Regions from separate parts of the Homo sapiens genome. Here regions 1 and 2 are each linked to region 3. The links come from fine-mapping of genetic effects on gene expression. A gene starts in region 3. Each other region holds a variant in brackets. All regions are shown on one strand. Distances are from middle to middle.

The links. PIP is the estimated chance that this variant, and not a neighbour inherited with it, causes the effect.
Region 1: its variant is the best candidate, but not a certain one, in a credible set for the expression of GGCX in tibial nerve (GTEx, PIP 0.58).
Region 2: its variant is the best candidate, but not a certain one, in a credible set for the expression of GGCX in prefrontal cortex (GTEx, PIP 0.87).

What each region holds. Positions count from the first base shown.
Region 1 is chr2:85,516,706-85,519,462 of GRCh38, reverse strand. No RefSeq gene overlaps it. Among named protein-coding and RNA genes, the nearest start is that of PARTICL, 21 kb to the left of the region's middle. The variant T/G (reference allele first, on the strand shown) is at 1,701.
Region 2 is chr2:85,584,369-85,587,125 of GRCh38, reverse strand. It overlaps VAMP5 (vesicle associated membrane protein 5), which reads right to left and starts at 2,695. Exons shown (of 3, transcript NM_006634.3): 1 at 2,633-2,695. The coding sequence starts at 2,635. RefSeq lists a silencer at 2,424-2,757 and an enhancer at 2,063-2,757. The variant A/G (reference allele first, on the strand shown) is at 1,503.
Region 3 is chr2:85,560,222-85,562,968 of GRCh38, reverse strand. It overlaps GGCX (gamma-glutamyl carboxylase), which reads left to right and starts at 1,476. Exons shown (of 15, transcript NM_000821.7): 1 at 1,476-1,583; 2 at 1,984-2,154. The coding sequence starts at 1,541. RefSeq lists an enhancer at 1,273-1,502.

The sequences.
Region 1 (2,757 bases), 44 kb after region 3:
TTAAAATTCAAAATTGTTTTGATGGTAGTAGGCTTTCAATAAATATTAAACTTTTTTGAGCATTTTGTTACTTCAGTCAGTAGGATTGTTCAGGGATCTATTTGCCAAAGCCAAAAGTAGAATCCTTTCTTCTATTTTTTTCTACTCTACACATTGTCTTTATAATAATAATTTAAAAGAAGGATGTAATAGTGAAAACTAGTGAGTGAATCCCTAAGGCCTTTCGTGACTTTCTCCTGGAAACTGACCTATTTTGATACTGTCAGCTCGATAGGGTATCCTGGCATAACTTTTCTGTCTAGGAAGGAGCTCAGTTTATTGACCACTCATACATCTTTTTGAGAAGGCACATTGATCCTTCAAGAAAATGATCCTCCAGAAATTGTGATTGGTACAATTTGTAAGCAAAACCTCTTGTTAAAATCAGTAAGTTAGGCCGAGAGCGGTGGCTTATGCCTCTAATCCCAGTACTTTAGGAGGCTGAAGCAGATGGATCACTTGAGGCCAAGAGTTCAAGACCAGCCTGGCAACATGAAAAAACTCCATCTCTACTAATACAAAAATTAGTCGGGCGAGTTGGCCCATGTCTGTAATTCCAGCTACTCAGGAGGCTGAGGCACAAGAACCGCTTGAATCTGGGATATGGAGGTTGCAGTGAGCCAAGATCATACCACCATACTCCAGCCTGGGTGACAGAGCGAGACTCTGTCTCAAAAAAAGAACAAAAACAAAAAAACCCAAAACAGTAACTTATAGAAATAAGCTAGTATTGTGCAGAAACCTAGTTACACCTTGCCTAAGCTAAAATCTTAGTCACCTTTGGGTCACTAGCACACTCTTTTTCTCCGATCACATGCAGTCATAAAATCTTGCCAATTCATCTTTTCTGATGTTTCTCCTGCCCATTCCTTCATTGTTTTGGGGCCTTTTCCACGTCATGCCTATACCAAAAGGGACTGAAACTTAAAAGTTCCCTGTCTGAGTTCCTCCCCATTCTAACTCACCATTCCTGGATTAATCTTTAAAAAATAAAAACTAGGCTGGGCGGGGTGGCTCACGCCTGTAATCCTAGCACCTTGGGAGGCTGAGGCGGGCGGATCACCTGAGGTCAGGAGTTCGAGACCAGCCTGGCCAACATGCCGAAACCCTGTCTCTACTAAAAATACAAAAATTAGCCAGGCGTTGTGGCATGCGCCTGTAGTTCCAGCTGCTCCAGGGACTGAGGCAGGAGAATTGCTTAAACCTGGGGGCAGAGGTTGGAGTGAGCTGAGATCGCGCCACTGCACTCCAGCCCGGCTGATAGAGCAAGACTCCATCTCAGAAAAAAATAAATAAATAAAAATAAAAACTAAAAGAATAGCAACAACAAAACCCACATCTAAAAACTGTTTTTCTCATGATACCTCGCTTCTTCTCCACTCTCAAACTCATTGGCTTCCACAGAGTAAAATTCAGATCATTTAGCCAAGGCACATGAATCTCTCCCCAAACTCCTTTGACTCCTATGGCCATCTCTGCAGAAGCTTACACAAACACACCCCATTTGAAGGACAGTTTCAGGGCTCAGGACCCCTGCAGCTGGCGAAAGACCATGGGTTTCAAGTGCCTGCTCTGTGACAAGGCTTTGCCTTCCCAGGTTATCATCCCCTCTCTGCACTCCCAGCCCCGCAACATGCCACGTTCTTCAGACACATCCAGCC[T/G]GTCTTGGCCTCCACAGCTTCATTTTCTTTTTGTTTCTTTTTTTTTTTTTTTTTTCTTTGAGACGGAGTCTCTCTGTTGCCCAGGCTGGAGGGCAGCCGCATGATCTCGGCTCACTGCAACCTCCGCCTCCTGGATTCAAGCGATTCTTCTGCCTCAGCCTTCGGAGTAGCTGAGATTACAGGGACGCGCCAGCATGCCCCGCTAATTTTTGTATTTTTAGTAGTGACAAGATTTTACCATATTGGCCAGGCTGGTCTTGAACTCCTGACCTCAGGTTATCCACCCATCTCAGCCTCCCAAAGTGCTGGGATTACAGGCGTGAGCCATCATGCCCTGCCACAGCTGCACTTTGGGCATCTCCCTGCCCAGAACCCACCACTCTGCTGTTTCCAGGTCCCAACCACCTTTCAGGGCCTCTTCTCATCTAAACCTTCTCTGACTACCTTGGCCTTTGTGCATCTCCCCTTCCTCTTGACTTCTGTCCTGGCCCAGAAAATACAGGTCATTCTGTGCAGGCTGCCCAACTGGATTGCCAGGCCCCAGAGGGCAGGGATGATGGCGATCAGGTGGTGCAGGCCCTTCCACATCTTCTTTGCCTGTAGGTGTTGCCTTTCAGGACATGATGGTGAACATGATCATGCAGGAAAAATAAATAAATGAAAAACAAACATTAATACAAGAATCATTCTCTCTTTTTCTATTGCAGATTAGGCCCTCCTTCTGTCTCCCCCGACCCTCGCCCCCCCACCCCCAATCTGCTACAAAATATCCAGTATAACTCCTTTATCCTTTCGTGTGTAAAATAAGGAAGCTAAATTCTAGAGAATAGAGAAGTTGAAAAAGTAAACTAATACATTTCCTTTAATGACTCAGCCCAGGAAAGGTAAGCAAACAACTTGGACTTCAGACAGAGGTCGATAGCTGCTGATGGAGGTGATCCAGGCACTTCCGAGGCTGTGCAGGAAGGGCCAAAGCCGGTGCCTGGGAGAGCCGGATAGGTTTCTGCTGCTAAACCAAGTCTGCAGGGTGAGTTGATAAAGGAATGCTGATTCCCAA
Region 2 (2,757 bases), 24 kb before region 3:
TTTGGTAACTTGGTAACTAGCATCTAGTTTATTTTCTTTCTTTTTTTTTTTGAGATGGTGTCTCACTCTGTCGCCCAGGCTGGAGTGCAGTGGCGTGATCTCCACTCACTGCAAGCTCTGCCTCCTGGGTTCACGCCATTCTCCTGCCTCAGCCTCCAGGGTAGCTGGGACTACAGGCGCCTGCCACCACGCCCAGCTAATTTTTTGTATTTTTAGTAGAGACAGGGTTTCACCGTGTTAGCCAGGGTGGTCTCGAACTCCTGACCTCGTGATCCACCTGGCTTGGCCTCTCTCTCAAAGTGCTGGGATTACAGGCGTGAGCCACCGCGCCCGGCTGCATCTAGTTTATTTTCATCTGGCACGGCAGGCTGTTGAGGTTTTACATCTTGAGCAAGAATAACAGCCACCATCCAATGGGCACATACTCTGAGGTAGGCACTATGCTGCTTGCTGTTCATTTGCTCTGTCTCATTTAATCCTCACCCAACAACCCATTGAAGGCCATATTATTAACCCAGTTATTTTGTTTGTTTGTTTGTTTGTTTTTGTTCTGAGACAGCCTTACTCTGTCACCCAGGCTGGAGTGCAATGGCGCGATCTCAGCTCACTGCAACCTCCGCCTCCCAGGTTCAAGCGATTCTCCTGCCTCAACCTCCCGCATAGTTGGGACTACAGGCGTGTGCCACCACACCCGGCTATTTTTTTATATTTTTAGTAGAGACGGGATTTCACCATGTTTGCCAGGCTGGTCTTGAACTGTTGAACTCGTGATCTGCCCGCCTCGGCCTCCCAAAGTGCTGGGATTACAGGTGTGAGCCACTGCGCCTGGCCTTTTCCCAGTTTTATAGGAAACTTTGGCTCAGAGGTGTTAAATCACCTGTCCAAGATCACAGAGCCAGTGAGTAGAAGATCTGGGAGTTGAACCAACACAGACTCCAGGCACCACATTTGTAACCCGTGTGCTAAATTAGATGCAGGTACAAGGAGGTCAGACACTTTAGCTGATTGGCTAAAGAATCTGGTTGATGCTACCAACCTAATTTGTGTGCATATGAGGGAGGCCTGTGGCTCAACACACACATTCTTTGGAGAGAGGATCATCTACAAGATTAATGAATTCAAGTAATTATTCATTCCATTTCCATCTTTCCCATCACTGCTTTGTTCCTGCTCTGTCCCCTATACTTGTCACCATGCTGGCATGAAGGACATTTCCAAGAAATCCTTGTTGGTTGAATGAGTCATAGAGAAGAAAAGAAAAGTGAAAGGAAGAAGGACCAGGGAGGGAAAGGGGATGGGTGGAAGGAAGGAAAGCGCTAAAGGGGCAAGAGTGAAAGAAGAAACAGGAAGAGGCTAGGAGATGGATGGGTGGAGGAGCGACCTCCCCAGCCTCTCCTCCACAGACTGCCTCAAATGTACCCGTGAGAATCCCCAGGTTTCCCAGTATCCTCCTCCCCCAATAAAATATCCTGCCTTCAGCCTTCACTTCAGGAGCTTCTCCC[A/G]AAGAGCTAAGGGCCGGCTGAAGCCCACCCCTACCCCTGCCTGACCCCTTGCCCTGCACACCCTTAAGTGGGCTCTGGGCTCTGCCCTATTCTCAGAGCCTTCCTCAGCTTCCTGGCCTGGCCTCAGAGCTCAGTGCTACCTTCCTGCCCCACTTCCTCTTCCTGCCTCCAAGTTCCCTGGAGATAAGGCCATCCAGGCATTGACCCCTAGCCAGGCCACATCCATCACACCTCTGTCAGTTTCTCCAAGGCAAAATCTTAAAGCACCAAGCCTACTTCCTGCCCAGTCCATTTTCCCAGGAGCCCTAGGGAAAGGGAGAAACTGGCACCAGCTGTTCCTGACATCTTTGCCTTGGAGATGGCAAGTGAGGACAAAGGCCAGGATCTGCAGCAGGAGTGGGGATGACTCAACTCAGGAATGTGTCACTAGGTAGAGGTTAGCAGGGAGTCAGGCCTGTGCCATACACTGATAACTTCAGTGGAACTTTCAGAGTAAACATCTCCCTTTCTCTTTCTCTAGGGGAGGAGTTCGCCCTCCAACACCCTGCCATGGGGCTGGAATGGCCTCTGCCACCCCATCTGCTCAAGTTTCCAACTCCTGAGCCAGGCTTGGCTCCTCACAGCTGCGGAAAGGGCTGACGAGGTCGTTACATTTCCTACCACTTCTTAGCAGTGGGTTCTGAGTGCCAGGCGGGTCTCTGCCACTGTGGCTCCTTTAACCTCGCAAGGACCCAACAAGGCAGGTATTACTGACCCCACTTCACAGACGCGGAAAAGGAGGCTCAGGGAGGTTAAGTGACTTGTCCCGGGTCACAGAGCTGGGATCCCAGCCCGGAGTCCGACTCCAAAGTCGGTGCTCTTAACCGCTTTGCTTCAGGAGAATGGGGAGCCCGAGTCCCGCTCGCTCTGCGCGGTGCAGCCAGGACGGGGCTCACGCATTTCTCTCCCATGCGGCGCGCAGGGAGTGGAGGGTCCGCCCCGTCCTGCTCCAGCAGTGGTCACCGCCTCAGGTCTGGCCCTCGTGGGCCCCAGGGGAGGCCCCAGCCCGCGGACTTTGGACTCCTCTCTCCCACCCTCGCCACTCGCCCTCTGCCCGTCGCAGGGCTGGCCGGCCCCGCCTGGGCCCTCACCATCGCTGCTGCCGCCGCCGCCTCGCCCGCTCCCGGCTTCTCTGCCTGCGGAGCGGCCGCAGTGCCAGCGGCCCCGGAGGAAGAGCAGGGGCGGGGCGGGGCGGGCCGCCGAGCGAGGGCGGGGG
Region 3 (2,747 bases):
CCTCGTGATCCACTCGCCTCGTCCTCCCAAAGTGCTGGGATTACAGGCGTGAGCCACCGCGCCCGGCCAAAAAAATTTCTAATACGGCAAATATTGAAAGATATAATCCACATAAACAAAGCTTTTAGGGTCTTCTATAATTTCTAACACTGTAAATGGTTCCCAAGACCCAACTGTTTGAGAACCGCTTCTCTGGGATGCCTTCTTCTTTTCCTGCTGGCTAATCCCAGTGGAGAGATTTAGGTATTTAATTCTGCTCCAGACTCACCTCTGAGAACCTTCCCTGATGGGCCACACTCTACTCACTGCCCTTGCTCTGTATCCCCTCTTCAGTTATGTTGTTCCTGTTTCCCTGGCTGCTTTTAATTTTCTTTCTTTCTTTTCTTCCCGCCTTTTCTTTTCTTTCTCTTTCTTTTTCGTTTTTTGTTTTTTGAGACGGAGTCTCACTCTGTCGCCCAGGCTGGAGTGCAGTAGCGCGATCTTGGCTCACTGCAACCTCCGCCTCCTAGGTTCAAGCGATTCTCCTGCCTCAGCCTCCCGAGTAGCTGGGATTACAGGCGCACGCCACCATGCCCGGATTATTTTTGTATTTTTAGTACAGACGGGGTTTCACCATGTTGGCCAGGCTGGTCTTTAACTCCTGACTTCAAGTGATCCGCCCGCCTTGGCCTCTCAAAGTGCTGGGATTACAGGCTTGCTGCCGCACCCGGCTTGTTTTTTTTTTTTTTTTTTTTTGAGACGGGGTCTCACTGTGTCCCCCAGGCTGGAGTGCAGTGGTGCGATCACAGCTCCCTGCAGCCTCGAACTACTGGGCTCAAGCGAACCTCCCACCTCAGCCTCCCGAGTAGCTGAAACCACAGGAGCGCGCCACGACACACAGCTAACTTTTTTTTTAGTGTTTTTTCTTTTTTTGTTGTTGCCTTTTTTTTTTTTCTTTATCGATCCTCCCGCATTGGCCTTCCAAACTGTTGGGATTACAAGCGAGAGCAGTGCCCGGCCCCTACTGCTTTGAAACCTCGGTTCTTTGCAGGTCCTGGAAAAGAAAGTGAAGGGGTCGTGCAATGGCTCAAAACCCAGGCAACATTTCCAGGCGCGTCCTCAACTCGGCGTCACTCTGACAAAAAGTTTGCCCTTTGCGCCCGATCCCTCACACCAGAGAGCACCGCAGGGACGCAGGGACGGAGAGGACTAATGGGGTCGGGGAGGACCCAAGGAAGTTGGGGAACTCAGACTCTTTTCAGTGTTTAAAAAGCAGAGGCCCCCTCGGAAGGCATAACAGGCGAGTCTAACAATGCCCCTGGAGATCAACGGCACTAAGGGGTACCTTTGCCCCGCTCCAAGGCTCCTTGTTCCGCCCCCTGCCGCCAAGCAAGGAATCCGGCGCCGCCGGTCGTGGGTAGTATTTACGACAGTGCTGGCGCTTTGCGGCCGGCCGCACAGCCGCTGACGCGTCGGGAGGCGGAGCCTAGGGAAGCAAATTCTCCTGGCGGCCTCCGTTCAGACGCGGCAGCTGTGACCCACCTGCCTCCTCCGCAGAGCAATGGCGGTGTCTGCCGGGTCCGCGCGGACCTCGCCCAGCTCAGGTAGGCTTAGGACCCCGCCCTCCGGCGGAGAGTTCCTAGGAGCGCTGGTCTCAGAGGGGCGGGGGCGGGAGGACGCCCAGTGTCTCCCGGTGAGGCGGGGGGGGGGTCCTCTGTGGGGAAGGGGGCGTGCTGTGAGACATTTGCAGCCTGCGGCTTCTGAATGATGATGACATTCGGGAACACTGCGGTTAGGGGACTGTAGTCTGAGGGGTTCTGGGACATTAGGGGATCGTGGAGAGGGGGCTGCACTGCAGGGATGTTTCCTATAGTCAGATCATTGAGGCAACCTCATTGAGCCGACCCGGGTGGGCGGAAGCTCTGAGCTGTTGGTGCAGTGATTTCTTTGATTTGAGGTGGAGCCCACCCCCGCACACATATTTTCTCCATTTATTGATTGCAGATAAAGTACAGAAAGACAAGGCTGAACTGATCTCAGGGCCCAGGCAGGACAGCCGAATAGGGAAACTCTTGGGTTTTGAGTGGACAGATTTGTCCAGTTGGCGGAGGCTGGTGACCCTGCTGAATCGACCAACGGACCCTGCAAGCTTAGCTGTCTTTCGTTTTCTTTTTGGTGAGTCCAGTTTATGGGTGGGAGCAATTTGGTTGAGAGTGGAGAATGACAATCTCTATTTTTTGGTTGCAAGTAGACTTAGCTCCCTTTTCCTCAGAGCTGAAGACATTGGTATAAAAGAAGAGGTCTTTGCGAAGTTTAGGATTAAACCTGCTTTGTCTCCTACAGTTAGGATTTACTTGGTGGCCAGAAATGCTTTTTTTTTTTTCCTTAGACGGACTTTCGCTCTTGTTGCCCAAGCTGGAGTGCAATGGCGCTATCTCGGCTCACTGTAACCTCCGCCACCCGGGTTAAAGCGATTCTCCTCCCTCAGTCTCCCGAGTAGCTGGGATTACAGGCGCCCACCACCACACCCGGCTAATTTTTTATTTTTTTTGTATGTGTGTTTTTAGTAGAGACGGGGTTTCACCATGTTGGCCAGGCTGGTCTCAAACTCCTGACCTCAGGTGATCCGCCTGCCTCGGCCTCCCAAAGTGCTGGGATTACAGGTGTGAGCCACCGTACCCAGCTAGAAATGCTATATGATATGTAGAGGCGAGGCAGCAGTGACCCATTTTGCTTGTGGCATGAAGTTGCCCAGAAGACTCAGAGAA